Homo sapiens: one gene and its partners. The protein of the gene in region 1 purifies or fractionates together with the protein of each later gene. This does not show direct contact. Each region holds a gene or a part of one and is shown on either strand. Other genes may lie near its edges.

Evidence for each region.
Region 2: the proteins of DVL2 (region 1) and IQGAP1 purify together in Homo sapiens (affinity purification with western blotting; 3 studies listed by BioGRID, with this or other methods). This does not show direct contact.
Region 3: the proteins of DVL2 (region 1) and VANGL1 purify together in Homo sapiens (affinity purification with mass spectrometry; 4 studies listed by BioGRID and IntAct, with this or other methods). This does not show direct contact.
Region 4: the proteins of DVL2 (region 1) and NEDD4L purify together in Homo sapiens (affinity purification with mass spectrometry; 4 studies listed by BioGRID and IntAct, with this or other methods). This does not show direct contact.
Region 5: the proteins of DVL2 (region 1) and CSNK1D purify together in Homo sapiens (affinity purification with mass spectrometry; 3 studies listed by BioGRID and IntAct, with this or other methods). This does not show direct contact.
Region 6: the proteins of DVL2 (region 1) and ATAD3A purify together in Homo sapiens (affinity purification with mass spectrometry, with the first as the bait; 2 studies listed by BioGRID). This does not show direct contact.
Region 7: the proteins of DVL2 (region 1) and AP2B1 purify together in Homo sapiens (affinity purification with mass spectrometry, with the first as the bait; 2 studies listed by BioGRID). This does not show direct contact.

What each region holds. Positions count from the first base shown.
Region 1 is NC_000017.11:7,228,180-7,231,517, reverse strand, and holds part of DVL2 (segment polarity protein dishevelled homolog DVL-2), read left to right. Parts: intron 1-323; exon of another isoform or gene 324-637; intron 638-720; coding exon 721-790; intron 791-1,087; coding exon 1,088-1,233; intron 1,234-1,362; coding exon 1,363-1,472; intron 1,473-1,574; coding exon 1,575-1,710; intron 1,711-1,839; coding exon 1,840-1,930; exon of another isoform or gene 1,931-1,968; intron 1,969-2,070; coding exon 2,071-2,140; intron 2,141-2,243; coding exon 2,244-2,383; intron 2,384-2,472; coding exon 2,473-2,549; intron 2,550-3,338.
Region 2 is NC_000015.10:90,499,491-90,502,739, reverse strand, and holds the end of IQGAP1 (ras GTPase-activating-like protein IQGAP1), read right to left. Parts: intron 2,746-3,249; coding exon 2,632-2,745; 3' UTR 501-2,631; downstream 1-500. UniProt on the Homo sapiens protein: Plays a crucial role in regulating the dynamics and assembly of the actin cytoskeleton.
Region 3 is NC_000001.11:115,679,970-115,683,469, reverse strand, and holds part of VANGL1 (vang-like protein 1), read right to left. Parts: intron 1,107-3,500; coding exon 973-1,106; intron 1-972.
Region 4 is NC_000018.10:58,399,633-58,402,039, reverse strand, and holds the end of NEDD4L (E3 ubiquitin-protein ligase NEDD4-like), read right to left. Parts: 3' UTR 501-2,407; downstream 1-500. UniProt on the Homo sapiens protein: E3 ubiquitin-protein ligase that mediates the polyubiquitination of lysine and cysteine residues on target proteins and is thereby implicated in the regulation of various signaling pathways including autophagy, innate immunity or DNA repair.
Region 5 is NC_000017.11:82,270,901-82,275,026, forward strand, and holds the start of CSNK1D (casein kinase I isoform delta), read right to left. Parts: upstream 2,801-4,126; 5' UTR 2,482-2,800; coding exon 2,406-2,481; intron 1,203-2,405; exon of another isoform or gene 1-1,202. UniProt on the Homo sapiens protein: Essential serine/threonine-protein kinase that regulates diverse cellular growth and survival processes including Wnt signaling, DNA repair and circadian rhythms. It can phosphorylate a large number of proteins.
Region 6 is NC_000001.11:1,525,662-1,529,161, reverse strand, and holds part of ATAD3A (ATPase family AAA domain-containing protein 3A), read right to left. Parts: intron 2,702-3,500; coding exon 2,631-2,701; intron 2,002-2,630; coding exon of another isoform or gene 1,887-2,001; exon of another isoform or gene 1,480-1,886; intron 1,468-1,479; coding exon 1,300-1,467; intron 1-1,299. UniProt on the Homo sapiens protein: Essential for mitochondrial network organization, mitochondrial metabolism and cell growth at organism and cellular level. May play an important role in mitochondrial protein synthesis. May also participate in mitochondrial DNA replication.
Region 7 is NC_000017.11:35,628,822-35,632,321, forward strand, and holds part of AP2B1 (AP-2 complex subunit beta), read left to right. Parts: intron 1-3,500. UniProt on the Homo sapiens protein: Component of the adaptor protein complex 2 (AP-2). Adaptor protein complexes function in protein transport via transport vesicles in different membrane traffic pathways.

The DNA of each region.
Region 1 (3,338 bases):
GAAAGTATAAGAGTAGAGGCTTTGATGAGGACCAAAGCCTTTTTTGGAAGGTTTTTTTTTTTTTTTTTTTTGAGCCGCCCAGGCTGGAATGCAGTGGCGCGATCTCGACTTACTGCAACCACTGTCTCCCGGGTTCAAGCGACTCTCCCATCTCAGCCTCCTGAGTAGCTGGGATTATAGACACCCACCATCATGCCCGGCTAATTTTTGTATTTTAGTAGAGATGGGGTTTCACCATGCTGGCCAGGCTGGTCTTGAACTCCTGACCTCAGGTGATCCGCCCGCCTCAGCCTCCCAAAGTGCTGGGATTACAGGTGTGAGCCACCGTGCCTGACCTTTTTGGAAGGTTTGTAAGGAACAGGGGTGGGGTTGAGAGGAGGCCACCAGCCAGTCTCATTAGATAGGTATCTCAGGCAGCCGCATCAGCGTGCGGGATTGCTTTTGAAACTGGACTAAGAGGTTTGAGTCAGACTCAAGGAAGTCTTTGGAGCAGCACTGTGCCCCTGAGGGTGCGTTAGGGAGAGGAGAAATAAGGAAAGGGGATTGAGTTTGGAGATTTCTTAGGTGTCGGAGTGAGTTCTTTCAATGTAAGAGAAGACCTGAACAGGGCAGGAGAAAGTCAACATCCTGGAGCCAGGTGAAGATTGGGAGAAAGTTTGATGGGGGTCGGGGTGGGGATGGTTGGTCCAGCTCACTGACCTCTACCTTGTCGCTTGGCAGGGTGGTGAAGGAAGAAATTTCAGATGACAACGCCCGCCTCCCCTGCTTCAACGGAAGGGTGGTATCCTGGGTAAGAGGTTCTGACACCGAGGACCAGGCCCCCTCAGCATTGCCAAGCTCCCTCAAGCCTCAGTCTGTTTCTGTATCCTCCCCAGGCCGCGCGTTAGCAGCCCTGGCTCTTTACCTCCTGTCTGTTTGGAGAGCCGGCGAGAGGCCCTCAGCCTTCTCCTTCTGGAGTCTCTAATACTTGCTAGGTTTTTTTGCTCTTCTCCAGCTCTCTGAGACCCTTTCTCATTCTTTCACTTACTGCCACCTGTCACACCCTGACTCCCAAGTGAGCCACTGTTTATCATTTGCACCCTTCTAGCTGGTGTCCTCAGATAATCCCCAACCCGAGATGGCCCCTCCAGTCCATGAGCCTCGGGCAGAACTGGCGCCTCCAGCCCCACCTTTACCTCCTTTGCCACCCGAGAGGACCAGCGGCATTGGGGACTCAAGGCCTCCATCCTTCCAGTGAGTCCTTCAGATTCTTGACTGCAGGGGAGGGAGGTGAGGAGGGAACCCAGGCCTTTGGTAGGGGACGCCTAGGATCCGGAGCCCTGTTCTCCTGATGTGGGTTGGAAACCATCTCTGCCTGTCCAGCCCTAATGTGTCCAGCAGCCATGAGAATCTGGAGCCTGAGACAGAAACCGAGTCAGTAGTGTCACTGAGGCGGGAGCGGCCTCGCAGGAGAGACAGCAGTGAGCATGGCGGTGAGGGGCAGGCCTGGGGGCCGGGAAGGGCTGGGCCAGACCCCAGCCTTGGTGGGGTGAGCAGGGGGAAGCTTGGTTCTTGAGCTTCCTGTCCATATGTAGCTGGGGGCCACAGGACTGGTGGCCCCTCAAGGCTGGAGCGCCACCTGGCCGGATACGAGAGCTCCTCTACCCTCATGACCAGCGAGCTGGAGAGTACCAGCCTGGGGGACTCGGACGAGGAGGACACCATGAGCAGGTGTGGCTCCGCACAGCTCTCCCCAGCGCACCCAGCCCCGTCTCGTCTTCCAGTCAATCCTCTTGTTCTTTCTCTTGGCCCCATGACCACTTTGGCCTACGTTTGCTCTCCTTCCCAACCTCCTGGTAGGTTCAGCAGCTCCACGGAGCAGAGCAGTGCCTCCCGCCTCCTTAAGCGCCACCGGCGGCGAAGGAAGCAGAGGCCACCCCGCCTGGAGAGGGTGAGGGGTTCCTACAGGAAGGCTGGTGCTGGGAGAAGGTGGGGCATGGGCTTTGGTTTGGGCGGTGCCAGGACACCGGCAGCACCCCAGGGTTGACCCTGGGTTATTGAAGGGCACTCTGGCTCCTTTTCCCACCACAGACGTCATCCTTCAGCAGCGTCACAGATTCCACAATGTCTCTCAATATCATCACAGTCACGCTAAACATGGGTATGGGGAGAGCCTGTGGCTAGGGCGTGGGGAGGGCCTGGTCTCTAGGGTTCCGGGCGTCCTGTGGCAGGGGCTCCTCTTTTCACATGGCCTCTCTCCACAGAGAAGTACAACTTCCTGGGTATCTCCATTGTTGGCCAGAGCAATGAGCGGGGAGACGGAGGCATCTACATTGGCTCCATCATGAAGGGTGGGGCTGTGGCGGCCGACGGGCGCATTGAGCCAGGGGACATGCTTTTGCAGGTGTGCTGGGGTAGGGCCACTGAGCTGCCCTGCACGGGGGCCCTCAGCCTCTCCCACCGTGTCTCTGACCCACTTGCCGTCGCTTCCAGGTGAATGACATGAACTTTGAGAACATGAGCAACGATGACGCTGTGCGGGTGCTGAGGGACATTGTGCACAAGCCTGGGTGAGTTGCCAAGCAGGTTGCCGGTCCTCAGTCCTCTTTTTTTTTCTCTTTCATGTTTTGTTTTGGAATTTTAATAAGTACTAAGACAGCCGGGCGTGGTGGCTCGAGCCTGTAAACCCAGCACTTTGGGAGGCCCAGATGGGTGGATCACCTGAGGTGAGGAGTTCGAGACCAGCCTGACCAATGTGGTGAAACCGTGTCTCTACTAAAAATAGAAAAATTAAGTGGGCATGGTGGCACATGCCTGTAGTCCCAGCTAGTGAGGTGGCTGAGACAGGAGAATCACTTGAACCCTGGGGGGTGGAGGTTGCAGTGAAACGAGATCACGCCACTGCACTCCAGCCTGGGCGACAGAGCAAGACTCCGTCTCAAAAAAAAAAAAAAGTGCTAAGACATAACGTTCAAAGTACATGAAACAAATGCATGACATAGCAAATAATACTAGAGTAAATATCCATGTCACTGCCATCTAGATCATCAAATAGGAGATTGCTGATACCCTAGAACTTCCTCCTCAGATGTCCCTTCCTGCTCCCAAATGCCTCACTGCCCCAGGGGTAGTCACTCTCCTGACTTCTTTGGCCATCACCATAACAAAGAAAAGCTTTGCCTCACTGGATAGTTACCACCCTTGCACGTATCCTTGAACACTGCAGTTTCGTTTTACCTGTTTTTGGACTTTCTGTGAATGGAACTGTACAGCGTGTACTCTCTTGTCTCACTTGGCAGTATGTTTTTAAGAGTTTTCCATGTTGATGAGTCATCCACATTGTGGTGCCTTCCACCCTC
Region 2 (3,249 bases), on another chromosome or scaffold:
GGCCTCCTAAAGTGTTGGGATTACAGGTGTGAGCCACTACGCCAGCCCCTTTTCTTCTTTTTTTACTGCTGTGATTTACTTTTTCCACATTCAACATCCCCTAGTCTTTTCTGGTGACTTCCAAGTGACATAGGAACCCCCTAAGGGGCACAGTCTATGTGCTCAACAACAGTATGCTGGTCAAAAAAGGTTAAATGCTGTTGCAATTTTAAACTTTCCACCGTTCGTCAATCAGAATTAAGTGACATATAATGTTTGCTTCCCGCAACACCCTTCTTTTTATGGTGAAGATAACTTAAGCATATTCATTAAAAAGGCTAAAGTCACACGTTCACACATTAAAAGTCACTTTGAGACATTCAATGATCTGATGGTGGACTTACGTTTTCTCCTTTAAAAGGAAGGGGTTGTCTGCTGTTGTGATTTTAACTGATACATCTCACTCTAGTCAAGGTGTTTAGCAGGAACTGTTAACAATGAAACTGAGAAAAACACAAACATGAACAAATGACCTTTTATTTCATACAGAGATACAAAGGCAACTATGTGCAGCAACAATCTGACGGGCAGTCCAAACTCTTGGGAGGAAGTAAATTCATGGTAAATGTCATGATGGCTGGTCGAGGAGAAGGTCAAAGGAGGAGAGAGAGGAGACAGAGAATGCTACAGCTAATAAATAACAGTAATGAGAACTGTGTGGTTTCAACGCCATGAGTTTGTTGGGGCATCCTCTGTGCTACTAAAGCCACAATTCTATATCATCATCATCAACATTCTTGAAGCGCATTTTACACTATTCTGCATTAGCAATTGTGTTGAGGGAACTATAAACCTTAAAATTACTGACACATTTTATTAAAGGAGCTGTAAACTCTGCTCATTATTGCCTGTCTTGGATGTGGCCTTTGGGATTCATAGCCTCTTTTAAGGAAACAGGGTTGACACACTTTGGTTGGTCCCAGTTTTTGAGGCAATGCTAGTTGTAATAGCATCATCTTTTAATCTGAGGAAAATGTTTCTTTAAAAAACCTGTCTTCCAAAATACAACAAAAAACAAGGTCTGGGTAGTGGCGAATCCTTCCATGGCACTCCATGCCTCCCTGTGGGCTGTAACCATGCACCTGAGTAAAGAGTCTCATAAAAATACTTCTCCAATGCATTTATAATAGGGACACACTACATAGTTTGTTATTCATTAAAGCAGTTTATTGGCTTAATGTACATCAGTGAATTTTTAAATGCTAAAAATTTATGATAAAAGAATACTGAATCAAAACATCAAAGAAAGAAAATAGAGGCTCAGCAGCATGATTTCAATATATTTTCCTGGAAAAAGTTTTTTTTTTTTTTAAAGTGTATGACTTTTTATCCAAGAACAAAAGCTTTCTAAATGCAATGTTTAGACTTGATTTTTTTTTTAAACTAAGCCCAGAAAACTGGGGCTCATAAAATAAAGGCACAATGTGGGCAGCAAGAGAAAAAAGGAGAAAAAATGGGGAAAAAATTGGTTTTAATCTCACGTGTAACATAGGTTGGCTGGTTTTGTTTTTGTTTTAGACAATTAAAGGCAGAATTATCTCCCTGAACACTGCAGATAAATCCTAGTGTTTTAGCTATAAGTTTCAAGAGTTCAGATATACAGATAAAGCAATTTAAAAAAAGCTTTTCTTATTCTAAGGCTTTTGATGCATTATATAAATCTTTAAAATTCCTATCACCCACATTTTAAGACATACATCTATACTTTAATAAGGCACTCTTAAGATATAAAACAGTTTTAAAAACAATGACATTCTACATTAGGGCTAACCCATTCCTCTGCCATAGGGATGGAGTGAATTGTCTCTCTGAATCAAGTCAATCTCTGTGCACCAACAAAAACAGGCAGGTGCCTTGACCCATTCTGAATTTATCTGAGTAGCTGAATTTTAGCAATGGGACTCTCCCATCCACTAGTCGGGGAGTTACACAAACAGAATTGCCCAAGTTTGATAATGAAATTTAAAAACATTATCTCCTTTTTTCTAGAAATGCTTCCTTTGAACATGACTGTCACTTCCATTAGCTCCTGTCCATAAAGAAAAACACAATGGAAGATAACCAATGATTCCCCATATCCTTCAGTTTTCCTGATGGGACAGAAATATAAAGGAACTTTATTTTTAAATGACAACCTAATAACTGTTAATAACATGACATTTTAGTTGTGTGTCTTGTATGTATTTATGTCATTGGTGCTAATAGCTTCCACTTCTAAATGACACACATTTGAATCCTACCATCCCTATTGCTAATTAAACAAACACCAAAGCTTACAATATAGTACTGCAACCTCTAAGACTGTAACAACACAGAGAAATTTTAGTGGAGTTTCCACTCTTTCCTAAGTAATGGAAGAAAATGAAGAAACCAGAAAGGTCAGACTAAGCCTGAAACACAATTTCACTATGAAAAAAGGGTAACAAATGTCCCATCAGAGCGAGAGGAGTTAAAAATGTGGCATCGGGAGTGTATCAGATTGAGGTGCTGTTGTTGGCTAGGTCTTTGCTTCCAATGAGGAAAGAAGGACCTAGAAAGGAGCTGTGAGGTGCTTCTTTCCTTCATCCTTCTGGGCTGGCAGCAAACGATCAATTACTTCCCGTAGAACTTTTTGTTGAGAAGGAAGATCAGGAGGTTGACATTTACTTTAGCTCTATCAAATAATTTCATGACTGCAACTCCTTCATACTGTAGCTGCAGCAGGTCCTATTAACAAAACAAAACAAAACAAAACAAAACATTTTGACAGTTAATCAAGTCTGTGGAACAAGGAAAAAGGACACAATGTAGGGAGGGATCCAGATGGACTGAGGCCTGCCTTGTGTGCCAGATGTGAACTGGGGCGAAAGAAAAGTTCCACGCTAGGCAACTACCCACTGCACAACCAGCCTGAGAGCTGGAGCAATAGGGCACATTGGCCAAGGGAGGCTTCTGGTTGATTTGGAGTTAGGAAGTCATGTTGTTCATATCAAAATTCATCATACATGGAAAGAAAAAGAAACATGTTCAATTGCCACACACATCTAAGCTTTTTATTTCAGAAGTCACAATGACATTTTCCCATTTCATCCATGTTATGGGTCACTAGTTTTAATAAATCTGGAAAAGGTGAAGCATTTAAACCTATGATGAAATATACTAAGCACGGGGAAATGAGATAAGGCTAGTAATGTCACCTTAATACTATCTGATAGATTCTTAATTTCTATT
Region 3 (3,500 bases), on another chromosome or scaffold:
AATGGAAAGCAAGCTATGCTAGAATGTCATGGCAGCCACAACTTTTCTAGGAAATACCAATGCTTGAGGGTGTGCAACGTGACCCGTTAATGAATACAGACTCAGAAGTCCTGTCCTGTCCCCTGACCACTGACCACCTTAACTTTTCAGAAACATAGGCAGATTTCAGGCTTTCTTACGGATGATCTACTTGGCTGGTGACTTGGTTTCACTAGTGGGAATCTTTCCTAAGTTTTTAGATCACAGGTGAAATTTATCAATCCTTCAGGCTTCGTGAGGGAGCTCACACCTCATATAGCCAAAAAAAAATGAACAAACAAATAACTGAAAGGATATTGCCAACAAAAACTGACACTGTATATAAATCACTTGACTTGTTGAAAATATAATCCTCTCCTAGGGTTTGCAAAGTTCTTGCCCTCACCCAACATACCCAGGAAGAAATGACACCGCATCCTGTTTCTTGCACTTAACCATGTGATACCCTGAAACATAGCTTGGACTTACCCAGCCTGGCCTCCAGCCTCCTGCCACCCACTCAACTCCGGCTCCTAGCCACGAGTAAGAAGTGCCCGCAGGTATCTCACCAGATGCCTGGACTACTGAGATTTCTAGTCTTAATGATTTAGGTAGCTTTCTGAGTTTGTGGGTAATGTGCACCAATTTTGAAAAGCAACCCTTTCCTAACAGCTTCCAATATAAGATGATCCTGGCAGAAGGCAGGAAACACACACCGCTGCTGTTTTCAATCATAAAATCCCAAAATGAACAGGCTTCCAACACAGGTAGATGGTAAATCAACATTCCTCTAAACATGTGTCTGCCTACATAAAAAAGAGAAATTGTTCTGAAACAAGAATGTACCATAAAGGTAGGCCCAGAGAAGAAGTCGAACCAAACGTACCATGAATCTTAAATAGTCACCCAACTGTGCCCCTGTGAGCACCACGGACACCCTTTCAAGGCACATACCATCTACATTGTAGACTTTCAGCCCGGCCATATGCTTGGCTGCTCGGAATTTGGAGGCTGTTAGGAGGTTTGGGTTATAGATGGTGAAATCTTTGTAGTAATTTTCTAGGACCACCAATGCTGCTCGCTGGATACTGAGAAAAAAAGAACAAAATTAATGCAAAGCTTTTTCACTGAAGAAGCAGGTCCTAAACGAAAAATCCTCTTTTGGAGTCAGGTAAAGGAACACAACATCAAAGATAATCTCATACAGAAGTCCACTGGGTTCCACCACACTTCTGGTCTCCAGGATGAGAACTTAAAGCTGAAACTAAGCCCCATGGCCAGGTGACTTCTGTGCCCTCTCCTGGACCTGTGATTAGCCACATCCCATCTAGCCCTTTGTTGAAAGAGGAAGAAGTTGTAACTCATAACTTACATTTAGCTTTAGGCACACAAGAACTTTTTCTATTTTTCCTCGGTTTACAAAAGAAGAAACTGAGGATGCCCCCAAAAGGGCAAGAGACTTACTAATGGTTGCAGAGCTAATGAGTGAAAGAACAAAGTATAGATTCAGGTTTCTCAGGTCCTCATTCAGGGTTTTGTCCCCTAGGCCTTGGTATCCCTGGGTATAAGGAATCCTGGAACTTAGGTTTTATACAGACCAGAACAACTGCAGCCATCCAGGGCAGAGCGTACTTAAGAGGGCCTTGGCCACGCGCGGTGGCTCACGCCTGTAATCCCAGCACTTTGGGAGGCTGAGGTGGGCAGATCACCTGAGGTCAGGAGTTTGAGACCAGCCTAACCAATATGATGAAACCCCGTCTCTACTAAAAATACAAAAATTACCGGGGTGTAGTGGCATGCACCTGTAATCCCAGCTACTCGGGAGGCTGAAACGGGAGAATCACTTGAACCCAGGAGGCGGAGGTTGCAGTGAGCCGAGACTGCACCACTGCACTCCAGCCTGGGCAACAAGAGTGAAATTCAGTCTCAAAAAAAAAAACAAAAAAAACAACAAAAAAAAGAGAGCCTCCGCTGAGACCACTTGATCTTTCTGGGTCCCCCTGCCCCTTGGAGTGCTATCTCTGGCCTTTGGCAGAGGGGTATGAAGGTGACTATCTATGTTCCGATATTCTAGGTCTCCAACTATCCCCTGCTTGGTCCTCAGAGAGCAGCAGGGGAACAAAGAACAGGTACCATCAACAAGTGGGAGAGAGGATGTGGGAGGGTACTTATAATTGGAAATGAGTATAGACAGCAAAAGAATATGCCCTTGGTCTATGGTGCAGAACACTTGCCACTTTGAAGAACACCTTGCAATGATACAGCAAGGGTTTGCACATACCTGATTCTCATTTAACCCTCACAATCATTCGAGGTAAGAAAACTGAGGCTCAAAAATCTATGACCTGCACAACAGTATGCATTTAATAAACAGGAGAGCTGGAACTCTGATATGATTTACAAACCTCCAAGTTGGGCTTCCCGGTAACATGCGGACTCTGTGTAACAGCGTACGTGCTGACATCTCCAACCACCACCATGTTAAATACCACAGATATATTTTTATCTTGCCCTTTGGATTTTCCTTTCTAGTACTCTGCTAAGCAGATCGGCTTACAAGGATTATTTGCAGTAGCCAGAGCACCAGGATGGGGCTCCCTTTGATTCCTGGATGACCACACTGTGTTCCAACACTCTCCAGGTGGCTCAGGGATCCTCACTTCACACCAAGACAAGGGAGCTCCTAAACTATCCACTGGAAATTCTGTCTACCCACCCATTTGGCTCCCCTTGGAGCTCTGCTTCAAGACTTGAACAGAATTGAATATGGAAGTCAGTCAGCTAACCTGCTTAAGAGCAGAATCATGGTAAAACTTTCTGAGTTATATCCCCAACAGTGCCCGCATTCAGTTGGTACTTAATATCGTCCTAGATAATGTACAGTCATGTGAGGCTGGGGAACACTATCAGGGGAAATCCGGTGAGACCAACTTTGCATAATGGAAGTAAACCTAAGACTCCTAACAGCAAATCTGCATTTTGAAAATTCTGACCATTCAGTTACTCAGTTGTTCACTCGTCATTCCATATTTGAGTGCCTGTGTCTGCTAAGCCCTGGGAATATGAAGATAGACCTTAGCTGGTACCTGGAGCATGAACCCCATGACAGTGAGTATGTTCTCATGCTGGAACACGTGGGGCTGAGTAACCACGGAGAAGAGCTTCTGGCTGCCTGGGACAGGGTGCAGCCTTCCTGAGGAGGCGGACTTCCGTGGAGGTTTGTGTGTCACGAGAGCTCTTCCTGCAGAAGTCTAGTCTGCTTGCCCTGAAGGTCTCACCTGGCAATCTCCAAGTCAATGTGGCTCCAACTCCGTCCTTGCCCCCTGTCCATGGCATTCTCCAGAGAGGGGCAAGTGTTTCTTTATTCCTACCCCATCCAGAGATTCATTGCAACCCTCTCCCTGATCTCTCTCTCTCTCTCTCTCACATACACACACACACACACACACACACACACACACACACACTCCCTGGTGTGTGCC
Region 4 (2,407 bases), on another chromosome or scaffold:
CTTTTAGTAGGCTTAAGCCATGTGTTTTGGGCAGACTTTTTTTTTTTTTTTGAAACGGAATCTCGCTCTGTCACCCAGGCTGGAGTGCATGCAATGGCACAATCTCAGCTCACTGAAACCTCTGCCTCCCGGGTTCAAGCGATTCTCCTGCCTCAGCCTCCTGAGTAGCTGGCATTACAGGCATGCGCCACCACGTCTGGCTAATATATATATATATTTTTTGTATTTTTAGTAGAGATGGGGTTTCACCATGTTGGTCAGGCTGGTCTTGAATGCCTAACCTCAGTGATCTGCCCACCTCAGCCTCCCAAAGTGCTGGGATTACAGGCGTGAGCCACTGTGCCCTGCCAGACTTTAATGTTTTTAAAAGTGCGGCGCTTTTAGGGAGATGAAGGAAATGAACATACTATAAATCTGCAGGCATTTAAACCCCTCTGACAACAATTAAGATGGTGCATTCACAAAGAAGCTTTAAATCAAACAACCCATAACACTTGATGTAGAAAATGTTCCAGCTTCCATAATTCTTTATTAAATATTTGACAAGTTGCATCGCTTCTTTACAATGACTTCATTTTGTCACATTAGTCTTTTGCTGTCAGGAAAACAATCTACAGTTTCTCTTTAGATCTCTCAAGAAAAAAGAAAAGCGAAAGGATTGTTCTTCAAGAAAACTTCCTGTGTGTATCAAATTCAACCATATTTTAAAGCTATTCTGACTGTGAAAATGAGCATTATTCATAAGTTGCCTTAAAAAAATTCAAGGTAGTTTGGTTTTTACCACTGTATCAAATAGTACTTGGCTTCCTATTAGGAGGTGGGTTTATAATAAAAAGTTATGAAACATTGATAATTTATTTGGAATGCTTGAAACTCTTTTCACCTTAAAAGTCACTGTTTTTTTCATGTTTCATTTGATGATAGATCCTGAATTAGGAAATGACAGCAAATTAACATCATCTTCCTAGGGTTTTCTTAGGCTCCAAGGGTTGAAATTCACAGGACACAGCTTGGAGAAAACTGCAGAAGGGACTAAACTCTCACCTCCTTTCGAAACCAGATTACTCAATAAAGGTGTAAAAATGCTATACAAATATATACAAATATATTTGGACAGCATATGTACGTATATATGTATATATATTACATACAGAGTAGTAAAGGAAGAACAAAGTCACGCAAAGTTAACATGAAGGAAACCGTGACAATCTAGGTGAAATCAGTCTGAGTAAAAGGGGAAAACTGGCTTACACGGGAACACATATCTGCAGACACAGAGTTATGGTCACGAGGAAGGCTTCTGATGATGCACTGGTACGGGGTTGAGAATGCAGTGCACGCGAGGTTAGGCGCCAACAGCAATGCTACTCCTTACACACAGAAAACCAACGAACGGAAAGACGTGCCTTTGAAACATGCGTTGCTTTCAGTGGAACATCTTTAACAAACAACAGATGTTTAATGAGGTTTGCTTGGAAAATTTCATGCCAACAGGAAGCTAACCCTTTTCTAGAAAACGTTCTCCAAGCTCCCGTCCTAATGCTGTGGCACTTTCTCTGACATACTGAGAACACTCTGGGGTGGGGGTGTGTGTATGCAAATGTATAGACACTGTTCATTAAGGCTTATATAAATTAAAAAAGTGGTCCAAAGAATATCACATTTTTCCCCAGTTTTAAAATCTAAAGTACAAAGTGGAGTTTATAAGGATTTGTTTTTTAAAAACACATCTCAGTCCTGAAATTGGCAGTTCTGACACGACTTATCAGGATGTACCCCAATGCCTGAATGACAGAGGTAGTGATCTTCGGGGTCAGGGGAGGTCAGGAAGGGAGCAGGCGGGCAGTTACCCTGCACAGCGGCACCCTCTACTGGCGAGGCAGCAAATGATACCAGACAGCACCTCCCACCTCTCCCTCTTAAGTACAGGGGTGCAGGGCCAGGGTAAGGAGGAGACAGAAGAAGGAGAACTAGCACAGTGTCACGTAGGGGCTGCAGAACTGATTAACCCAGGCTCTCTTTATACGTTTTTAAATTTCAGAGGTGAGTACAAGACTCTCAGAAATACAGGAGTCGACTGTTAATGGGTAACTGTTAGAATAATTAAAAAGTTGCTGTGTATGAACCTGGCTTTCGGGAGGACCAGTGTGGATCTGGCAAGATAGCAGCGGTGCACACTCTCTATGCAACAATGGGAGATGTAGAAAATGGTTCAAATGTTTTGCATGCTGTTTCTCAGAATCTGTCACTGTGAGGCCGGGTGCGGTGGCTCATGCTTGTAATCCCAGCACTTTGGAAGGCTGAGGCGGGAGGATCACCTGAGGTCAGGAGTTCAAGACCAGCCTGGCCAGCATGGTGAAACCATCTCTACTAAAAATACAAAAATTAGCCAGGCGTGGTGGTGGGT
Region 5 (4,126 bases), about 75 Mb from region 1:
CAGCGCGAGGTGAGGCCTGGAGGGTAGAATGCTGAGTGAGGAGACAGCCTTCCACCCTCCACCTCTGGAATTACTTGGTGACAACCACACCAAAATTTGTCTTAATCTATCTTTGGAAAGCACAAAGTTGTTTGACAAGGTCTCAGATCAGAGAACAGATAGTTTCAAAGTACTTCTTATTTATTTATTTTTTGAGACAGAGTCTCACTCCATCGCCCAGGCTGCAGTGCAGTGGTGTGATCTTGGCTCACTGCAACCTCCGCCTCCCAGGTTCAAGCAATTCTCGTGCCTCAGCCTCCCAAGTAGCTGGAATTACAGGCAGCCACCACCACGCCTGGCCAATTTTTGTATTTTTAGTAGAGATGGGGTTTCGCCACTTTGGCCAGGCTGGTCTCCTGACCTCAAGCGACCCGCCCACCTCAGCTTCCCAAAGTGCTGGGATTACAGGCGTGAGCCACCACACCCGGCCCAAAATACTCCTTTTTGATGCCTGCCTAAAGGTGGCTAATGGACTGGCTTTGCAGTGTAACTCAGATCCTGGGGTTAAAACTTTCGCCAAAATCCATTGTTCTATAAATAAGCCAAACGACTTCCATTGACCAAGCACTCTGACTTCCCAAACACTGCCAAGAACACATCCAGCTGACCACCTGGTATAAATGTTTAATAGCCAAACCCAAATGTCTAAAGCCTGCTTACTCAGCAGTCCACTAAGGCATATGTACAGGTTCAAAAGCAACAATATGGCATGTGACAGGGTCACCTGGCAGGTTAACCAGGCACCGAAAGTATGAGCCACCCATATGTGTGGATTCGTCCTAACGCTGTCAGCCCACCGGGTCCTGAGTCCTCTCTCTGGTGACAAGTGGGAAGGGTGTGAGAACTGGAGACTGTCCACATGTGGCTTCATCTAAAAGGTATGACCAGAGGCATTACTGACATCCCAGGGGATTCCTGACCCTAGCTGACAGGTGCCCCAGTTAAAACACACCCCAAAGCTAGGGCTGCTGGAACAGAAAACAGCTCCCCTCAAAGGTCTGCAGCAGCCCCTCTGCAGGCACACCGCCTCAGGCTACATATCCTCAAATTCAGGGGATCTTGGAATAACTCGTGCATTGCACAATCCCACTAACAAGTGCGGAAAATTAAGTTACTTTAAAATTACAAACTTGGGCCAGGCGCGGTGGCTTCCCAGCACTTCGGGAGGCCGAACTGGGCGGATCACTTGAGGTCCGGAGTTCGAGACCAGCCTTGACCAACATGAAGAAACCCCGTCTCTACTAAAAATACGAAATTAGCCAGGCGTGGTGGCGCACGCCTGTGATCCCAGCTTTTCGGGAGGCTGAGGCAGGAGAATCGCTTGAACCTGGGAGGCAGAGGTTGCGGTGAGCCGAGATCACGCCATTGCACTCCAACCTGGGCAACAAGAGCGAAACTCCGTCTCAGGAAAAAAAAAAAAATTACAAACTTGAAGATTTAAGCCAACCTTTCATCACACTTGTGTTCACGTGCATATTTTTCCATTGTAAATATGACACAACCCAAAACCTTCTAATCCCATTGTTTTTGAAATCTACCTTGAGACTGTTACAGTCTAAAGGACACCTCATGAGTACAACTACCTCATCTGCCTCTCATCTTGCCAGCATCTTAATCCTGTGTGACTTTCTCTACATTCACCTAAACTTAACCCTTGCTCATTTGCACTCAGTCACCGCTCCAAGGCCAAGGGGAACCGTTCAGAGAGAACCCCCAGCGGGAGGGCAAGCCCCACTCCTAGCCGGGCCACTCCCCCGCTCCACACGGCATTTGGGTCTTTCTGACATTTTCCCCCACGAATGCAAGACACCGGGGCAGCCTCTGAGGGGGCAGCCAGACAGCCCCGGACCGGGCTGCGGAAGAAAGAGCGTGGCCTTTGTTTACTGCGGTGACCTTAGGCGTAGAGGAAGCCGACGCCCGCTTCGCGGCCCCAGCCCTACCCCCTCCCCTCCCACGGCCCGCTGCCCCCACCCCCGCCCTGCCCCTCCCCCAGGCCCGCCTCCCCACGCCCCACCCAGCCCTTCCCGAGTCCGCTCCCCACGACCCTGCCCCTACCCAGGTCGGCTCCCCAGAGACCATGCCCCACCCCGGGTCAGCTCCCCTATCCCCTCCTTCCCCAACCCTCCCCTCTCCAGACCCTGCTCCCCCGACCTGGTCCTGCCCCTCCCCCACGTCCGCTCCCCACTGCCCTCCCCACCCCTGGCCGCGCTAGCCTAGTGGCCGTTGGGTTCTGGCCACGATCCGGCGGTGCCGGGACTTGCGCGGAGACCCCGCGGGGGCCACCACTTCCTTCCGCGATCGCGCTTGGTCTTGGCAGCCGCAGGGCCCGGGTCTTCGGGCGGCGGGCGGGGGCGGCGGGGCCTCACCGAGATAGATGTCTCCGAAGGAGCCGCTGCCGATCTTCCGGCCCAGCCGGTACCTGTTCCCGACTCTCAGCTCCATGGCGGCGGCGGCCCGATTCGCTCCTGCCCTCCCGGCCGCTTCCTGGGTCTGAACTCTGGGAGGCGGCGCCGCTGCTGCCGCTACTGCGGGTCCGGCTCCCGGCTCCGCCCCCCTCACGGCCCCGCTTTCACCATCGCTTTCCTGTCGCCCCGCCGCTCCCAGCGCCTCAATACGGGGCGGATGGGACAGTCCGAGCGCCGCCGCCGCTGCTCCGGCCCCTACCGGTCCCGCTTGCCCTCTCCCCGCCGCGGATGGACTCGGATCTTCCGGGCCTAAATCCCCTTTCAGCTGCCTAAAGGAGCCGCCGCCATCGCGCTGTGACGTCACTTCCCCTAGCAACCCGGCGGGGCGGGGCCGCGGCGCTCCAGGGGCGGGGCCGGGCGGGGCGAGCGCTCCAGGCCTCCTCCCGACCCTGCGCCGTGCCCAGCCCCTCTGCCCTCCTGTTACCCCGGGACCTCGGGCCGCCAGCCCCTTCCACGTGCAGGCTCCTGCTGCTCTCGCGGGGGCTTTTCGTGTGTCCCCCGAGATGTCGAGGAAGCCAGGTGAGTTCCTCGCGACAGGCGGTGCCCTTTGCAGGAGGGGACAGGTAGCTGAGGCGTGGACAGAGTGACAGGCCAGGCTCAGGGGACACAGGTGAGACCCCCTCACTGGGCTGCCAGTTCCCGGGCTTGGGGCATCCCAGTACGTCAGCGTCTGCGGCCTTACCTCCTGACACCTAAGGCCAGAGACAGAGCAGGCCCGCGCCCTGGGAGGTCCTGATGTCCAGCCTGAAGATTGAGGACAAAGCCACCACCTTTCACAAAATGAGGCCAGACCACCTGCCTCCCTCCAGTCCCTGCGGCCTGGAGACGGAGTCAACATTCTTATCTGTGTTGGATCTGAATGTTCCTCCTTGCAAAGGAAACAAGGAGTGGACGTTCAGGCTGATGGCCAGCTTCAAAGATCGGGGCCTTTGATTCCCATCACTGGGAAGAAAGCCCTTCAGACAAGCCCCCCCAGGCTGCAGGTGCATGGGGACCTTGAAGAACCCGTCCCCATGGTCCCACGTCCATGTGTCTCGAGACCTGTCGCATCCTCGCTGAAACTCAAGAATGTGAAACAGGTGAAGGTGTGTTTTGACGCATTAGCATACCAGGGCTGTGGTGTGGGCACCGCCGTGTGAGTGAGACAGCAGCCTCAGCCCGTCCAGGTCACTGCAGAAGAGGAAAGCAGCCCCCACAGGCCCCACAGTGGTGCTCGCCTTTCTCCACCCCCCAGTCTTTCCTCTCCACCCCTCAGCTCCAAACAGCTGGAGGTCAGGTCGGGGAGACGGGCGTCCATTCCCGAAATTACATAGCAGGGCCTGGAGACAGGAGATGCCGCCGGCCAGACCACCATCAGTCACTAATGAGGGATGGGCAGTCGGAACTGCCCAGTTTCTGAGTTACAGAAGCCGGGGGTGGGGGGCTGCCAGACTAGTAAAACTGACCTTGTTGGCGGAATCGCTCACGGCTTTTCTGTTGATGAACAGAGTCCAGCTCTCCCACGGGTGGCTGTGATCCTTCTTCCTGGGGAGTCCTGCTGTCCCTGACTAGGGGCACCTGCCCACCTGTCAGCTGCTCCTCCCTCGGCTGGTCCTCCTGGGCTCTGATGGCCCCAACATTTC
Region 6 (3,500 bases), on another chromosome or scaffold:
GCCGGAAGACAGGCAGCGAGGCCGACACCCACGCCAAACATCCTCTTTGGAGGGGCTCTCTACTTCTGACAGCCCAGCTCCACATCCTCCCTGCTGCAGGCCAGGCCCGGACTGAGCAGGGAGTGGCTGCAGGGCCTGGAGATGGCCCCAACCACTCCTCACACCAGCCCTGCCCACAGCTGCTCACTCAGCACCCGCAGGGCAGGTGGCCTTTATGCTGGCAGTGGCGGAGCCCCGACTTCTAGCAAAAGCGTCTGCCTGGAGGCCACAGAAGCCAAGTCATGGTGCCAGGGCTACGAGCAGCCATGGGGGTGGGGGAGCCCAGGGAAGGGGAGGGCATAGGGAAACTGAGGCCCGGAAAGCTGGGCTGGCATGGAGCAGGCGGCAGCGGCAACCAGGCTCTCTTTTGTCATCACTGGCGACAGCAGGGATTTGGGTCAGGTGCACAGAAGGACTCAGAAACCGGGGCCCGGGGGACGCCAAGAAGTGGAGCAGCCTCTGCTCATCTGGAGTGTTCCCGAGGCAGCCGGTGTGTGGTGCCAGGGCCCCTCATCACCTGGAGGGCTCTGCCCACCGTGCCTGCTGCACCCACCGCCAGCAACAGGGAGCCTGACAGCCTCAAGGCACGTGAGCAGCAAGAGCCGTGCCCCACACCACGAGGCTCCAGGGCCGGGTGTGGCAGCTGGAGGGAGGCCAGGCCAGAAGCCAGCAGTGGACCATGAGGAGCCTCTCCCTCCAGTCCCGACACGGGGGTCTCATGAGGAGAGACTCCTTCGAATCCCGACACGGGGGTCTCAGAGCAACACTCCGTATCACCTCCCCTCACAGCCAGGGCCTGGGGGTGGCCGAGCACAAGATTTCCTCACAGCCCTCCTCGTAGTGAAGAGGAATGGAAAAGACGCCGGGCGCGGTGGCTCACATCTGTAATCCCTGCACTTTGGGAGGCTGAGGAGAGTGAATCACTTGAGGTCAGGAGTTTGAGACGAACCTGGCCAACATGGTAAAACCCCATTTCTACTAAAAATTAAAAAAAAATTAGCCAGGCATGGTGGTGGGCGCCTGTAATCTCAGCTACTCAGGAGGCTGAGGCAAGAGGATTGTTTGAACCCGGGAGGCAGAGGTTGCAGTCAGCTGAGATCGTGTCACTGCACTCCAGCCTGGGCGACAAGAATGAGACTTTGTCTCAAAAAAAAAAAAAAAAAAGGAATGTTAAAGGTTTGTAAGTGATGGTGGACTGTGGGTCGGGGTGGACCCTGAGCGAGGGCCCCTGGACGGGGGCTGGTGGGGCGGGACACTTACTGCTTTCCTTCTGTGGCCGGCTTAAGAACATACTTGTCAAAATACATTCTCACCAGGCGCTCCCGTTCCTCCTGCCCTGGCAGGTCGAAGTGGACCATCTCATTGATGCGGTCATTGATGGCCCAGTCGAACTGCTCTGGTTGGTTGCTGGCCAGGACCAGCATGAACCTGCGGGGCGGGGATGAGGATGAGGATGCTGGGGCTGCCGGCCGAGCTGCACCAAGGGGAACGGGGCCTCCTCAGCCCCCACAGGGAGAACCTAAAGTGGCGGGAAACACGAGGACACGGGCACAGCCCTGGTCGGCCACCTGCCCCACTGCACCCAGCTGTCCCCCGGCCTGGCTTCCTGGGCCTCTGTTCTCCCTCCATATAGTGCTTTCCCGCTGACCCTCGCCCAGCCTGATAGGCAGTGCCGGGAACACCACTCTCTCCTGCTGCCTGACCCCTGCTGTGCTGGGAGCAGGGATTCGGGACCCGGAGTCCATGTCGAGAAGTCGCCCACACGTGCCAGGAGCAGGACCTCAGGGGCCCGGGTTCACTGGAGGCTCAGCAGGGCCCCAGCCTTGCCTCTCTGGGAAGGACCCGAGTCAGGGCTCCAGGGAGCATCCACCGGCAGCAGCTGACCTGGGAGCCCAACGTGCCTGAGGAGTCAGCCACGGCCGACCAGCAGGACTTGATCCTCCGTGTGACACGTGACTGGGGCTGGAGGGGCCCAGGAGACCAAGAAAACTCAAAATTAGGGGACTTGGGAGGGACTAGGGAGCCTGGCCATGGGGCGGTCACCCTATGGGGGACCTCTGGGCGGCAGCCCACAGAGGCCACACAAAGTCGGGTGGGCCCCAAGCCTGGAGGGTGCACCCTTGGCCAGCATCCGGGCGGGGGACCAAGGTCCCAGGTTCCGCCCCGACACACAGGACCTGCTGGTGTCCAACTTCCCGTGGGAGCAAACTTGTCTCCATCTCCCACCCCAGGGCACACACACCCTCCAAGGGAGACCCAGCAGAGCCTCACACGATGAGACCACCTCCCTTGCAGGCACAGGACCGCAGAAACCTAGGGGCAGAGGGACCTGCAAGCTGGGGCGGCGGCGCACAGGGCCGTGAGGACAGGACTGACCCCAGCTCTGCCCGGGAGGCCCCCGCATGTTCCTCAGTGACACCCCGTGCTGTCCCGAGCTGGGCCGTTCCCAGGGGACATCCGAGGTGGGCATGTTGAGGCCACGGCAGCTGCCCAGCACTGTGAGCCAGGGCCCCTCAGGTCCCTCGGTGGGAACCAAGGGCGACGGCTGCACAGCCCTGCCCGGGGGCCCAGGACCCGAGGGGCTCCCTCACTTGTTGCTGTGCTGGCCCGTGCGGTACAGGAAGGCGTTCAGTGTGGCCCTGAGGTCCTCGCTTATCTTCTCCTGCAGAGAGAAGGTTCCAGCCTTAGGCACCAGGAGCAAAGCCTTGTAAACAGCCACAGCAGAAAGTCCCACAGGCCTCCCTCCTGCAGGGAGCAGGGACATGGCGACACTTTCATGGATCTACTCTCAAAAGCCTGACCAGGGCCAGGGGCGGTGGCTCACGAATGTAACCTGGATTTTGGGAGGCTGAGGCGGGCAGATCACACGAGGTAAGGAGTTTGAGACCATCCTGGCCAACATGGTGAGACCCCGTCTCTACTAAAAATACAAAAATTAGCCAGGCGTGGTGGCGCACCTGTAGTCCCAGCTACGTGGGAGGCTGAGGCACGAGAATCACTGAAACCTGGGAGGCAGAGGTTGTAGTGAGCTGAAATTGCACCGCTGCACTCCAGCGTGGGCAACAGAGTAAAATTCTGCCTTAAAAAAAAAAAAAAGAAAAAGAAAAGAAAGCCTGACCGGGCACGGGGGCTCACATCTGTAATCCCAGCACTTCAGAACGTCAAGGGAGGCAAATCTCTTTAGCTCAGAAGTTTGAGCCCAGTCTGGGCAACGTGAGGAAACTCCATCTCTACTAAAATTACAAAAAAATTAGACAGGTATTCCACTGTGCCCCTGCAGTCCCAGCTACTCAGGCGGCTGAGGCAGGAGGATTGCTTGAGCTCCAGAGGTCGAGGCAACAGTGAGCTGTGATCGCCCCTGCACTCCAGCCTGGGCGACAGAGACCCTGTCTTAGAATGATAATTAAAAGGCTGGGCGTGGTGGCTCACGCCTGTAATCCCAGCACTTTGGGAGGCCAAGG
Region 7 (3,500 bases), about 28 Mb from region 1:
GTTTCTTATTCTATCAACTGTTGGCTTGCAAAATTTATGCATATTACGACTGTGTAAATATTTAGGGCCAATGTAATGCAAATGATTACATTTTCTTTCTTATAGCATCTTTTTTTTTTCTGGAGGTTTTTTGTTTTGTTTTGATTTTTGAGACAGAGTCTCTGTTGCCCAGGCTGGAGTGCAGTGGTATGATCTCGGCTCACTGCAACCTCTGCCTCCCGGGCTCAAGCGACTCTTATGCCTCAGCCTCCTGAGTAGCTGGGATTACAGGCATACGCTACCACACCTAGCTAATTTTTGTATTTTTAGTAGAGACGAGGTTCGCCATGTTGGCTGGGCTGGTCTTGAACTCCTAGCCTCAAGTGATCCGCCTGCCTCAGCCTCCCAAAGTGTTGAGATTATAGGTGTGAGTTACCACACCTGGCCCTGGAGTTTCTTTAATTGCCTCTTTTTTTCTTGCATGTGTGTCTTTATCATGCCCCTATATTATTCCTGTTCCTTAAGCATAATATCAAATCTGTAAACTTTCTTTTGTCTTAGACCCTTCTCTTTTGCAGTCCTCTGTCTTCTTGTTTTTTCTACTCTGACTGATTGCTTTTCTGGCTTCTGCACATCATTCCATACAGCCTCCCTATTTCTTGTTATTGGTATATTTTTCCTTGCATTGCTCTTTTTGTGGTTGCAATAGCTTCTTGAATCTCTGAGGATATGAATGATTCGTTTTTTTGTTTCTGCACTTTGAATTTAATTATCGGATATTTTTTGGTGATGATTGCATATCTATGCATATAATTTTTTAATTGAGATGTATACCATGCATACAGTAAAGTGCAGCTCGTTTCTGTTTAAGAAAGAGGTAACAGAAAAGTTGATTAGGACTTCTGTATACATAGGCAAGGCTGTCGACTATCAGGTTTCTGCTTTAGGGAAGGGGGTTTATCTTTACATGGAAGACCTCTTGAAGAGCCTATCTGGTCTTAGAGGGCAGATTGGTTTCTAGCTTGGCTGCAGCCTTCCGGTAAGTATTATGGGCTGTAATTTACATTGCCCTGCTTCATCAGTCAGCAGTCCTCCATTTGTTTGTCCTCATTCAGAAATTTGTTGAAATTAACAGTGGCTTCTGTTCACTGTTTTTATGGGTTCAGAGCCCCATGTTTGTTCTTGCTACTTGATTATATGCAGTTCTGCCTAGAGTCAGAGGATTGGACCATATGATTTCTCAGGAATACGAAAACAATTTGTACAGTATGACCAGTACTTTACCGGAACAAAAGGAGGCAGATGTGTGTCAGAGAATCTTCTATGAAATACCTGTTCCTAATTGGCCTTCCTTGTTTTTTTTCAGTTTAGTGCTGCTTCATGTAGTTTCTGTTGATAAATAATTTAATAGAAAGGCTGTTAACAGCAAGAAGTTAGCTAGTCCTGGGTTCTATTCCTGGTTCTGCTAGCTCACTTGATTCAGATATTTAATGTTTCTCTTCATTGGAGAAATGTTAAAGTCTTTTTGTTGGATCTTGATATGTTAACATTGTTTTTATTACCACTGTCACCACACGTCACAACTTGTTTTTCTTTTCTTTTTACGTTAACATATCTTACTAGCCGTCTACTTAGTATTAATGTAGATAATTTTCAGAGAGATTTTGGTAGCATAAGAGTAAGGTGGTTTTGTTCTCTTCACTAGTGTACATAGCCATCTTTTCCACAAGACTGCCATTGTCTTATGACCTACCTCTCTGACAAAGCTGTAAACAGTAATACAAAAATTATATCTTATTCTGAAGTTCAGAGACTTTCTAGCCCTGGAATTACTAGAAAGTGTTCTCAAAGCATCTAGATTCCTCAAGGCTGTTAGTCATCTATTGTGACTAATGGAAAGGTTCTCCATAATCTTCTGGAAAAGACTTCTGATGGCTTTCACTTCTTCCTTTGACTAAGCGTGCTTTGATGGGAGTATGACAGGATGTGAGGAATGAACTTTCCCAGGAAACTTAAGGTCACCCTTCAGGAATCCTGTCTTATCTAGTGCTGTCATTTCAGATTACCCAGATTTACCTTAGAACTTTTCCTGTAACTGTTTCAGCCATGAAGGTTTTCAGTTTGACAGAGTTGCCAAGCCAAACAGTTAATTGGACCAGGAGAGGCAATGATTGCCTGTTTGCACTAACTCATCCATGGGACAGGAATCAGCAGCATAAGAATTGTAATGAACTTTCTGTATAGCTTTGGGAAGCAACAAGCTGTTGAGCAAATAAATAGCACTGAAAAAGCAATCCTATGGTGCTATTTTTTTGTTCAATAACTTTTGCCTATTTCTTTCAGGAGTAAACAAACTCCTGGTCCTTTTCAGTTTTAAAAAGGAGAGAGGTTGAGGCACTAGGTTAAGACCAGGAGTTCTTCACTTCCTGGTCTTCTGGTTATTTTCTGTTTACTATTTCTGATTTTTATATATTAGAATAAAATATTGGTTTGTGTGTCATTTCTTAAAGACAAAAAACATATTTTTCCTATTAGGAAAACCATATTTGTTTACTATATATAATTATAGAACAAGTTAAACAAAAAATGGGGTACCCCGCTTTCCCCATCTTCTGTTTCACTCTCTCAGATATGCAGTGGACATAATCTGGTAGACATCATTTTATATCATTGTTTATATAGTGTTCTATACAAAGATGTATTTTTTTATAAAAATGAAATCATTCCACAAATGCTATTTATTTACTTTGTTTTATCCTCTACTTTTTTTTTTCTTACTAGTAATATCATGGACATTGATCCACATTATAAAGAAAAATTTATGTCATCTTTAGTTTCTGGTTTATAGACATAACGTGATTACTTGATAACTTACTGAATTTGTAACTTTATCCCTTATTATAGGACCTTAAAGTTGTTTCTACTCTTTTTCCAAATGGTGGTATAAGGAGTATCCTTGCAACTAAATCTTTGAACTCTAGTTGAAGTGAACATTTTTTCATAACAGTTATGCTTATTAGCCATTTGGGAATTGCTCACTCATGTCCTCTGCACCTTTTTCCAATATGTTATCTTTTCCACATTGTTGTTTTAAAGTCTTTTGTAATTGAGATGTTAACCCTTCTTTTAGTTAGCATTTATTTTCCTAGTTTGTTGTCCTTTAGATTTCTTCTGCTTTCTTGATGCACAGAAGTTTAGATTTTTGTATCAGCTTTTCTCAGTCAGTGTTTTTCCTCAGTGGCACACTTAGAAAATTGTGCTTCACCTAAAGTTATATAAAATTCACTATTTTTTTTTTTTTTACTTCTATGGCAATGATTTTGTTTTATTTGTTTTTTGGGGGGTGGTGGGGAAATGGAGTCTTGACTTGTCGCCCAGGCTGGAGTGCAAATGGCGCAATCTCAGCTCACTGCAACCTCTGCCTCCTGGGTTCAAGTGATTCTCCTGCCTCAGCCTCCAGAGTAGCTGGGATTACAGACATGCACCACCATGCCCGGCTAATTTTTGTATTTTTAGTAGAA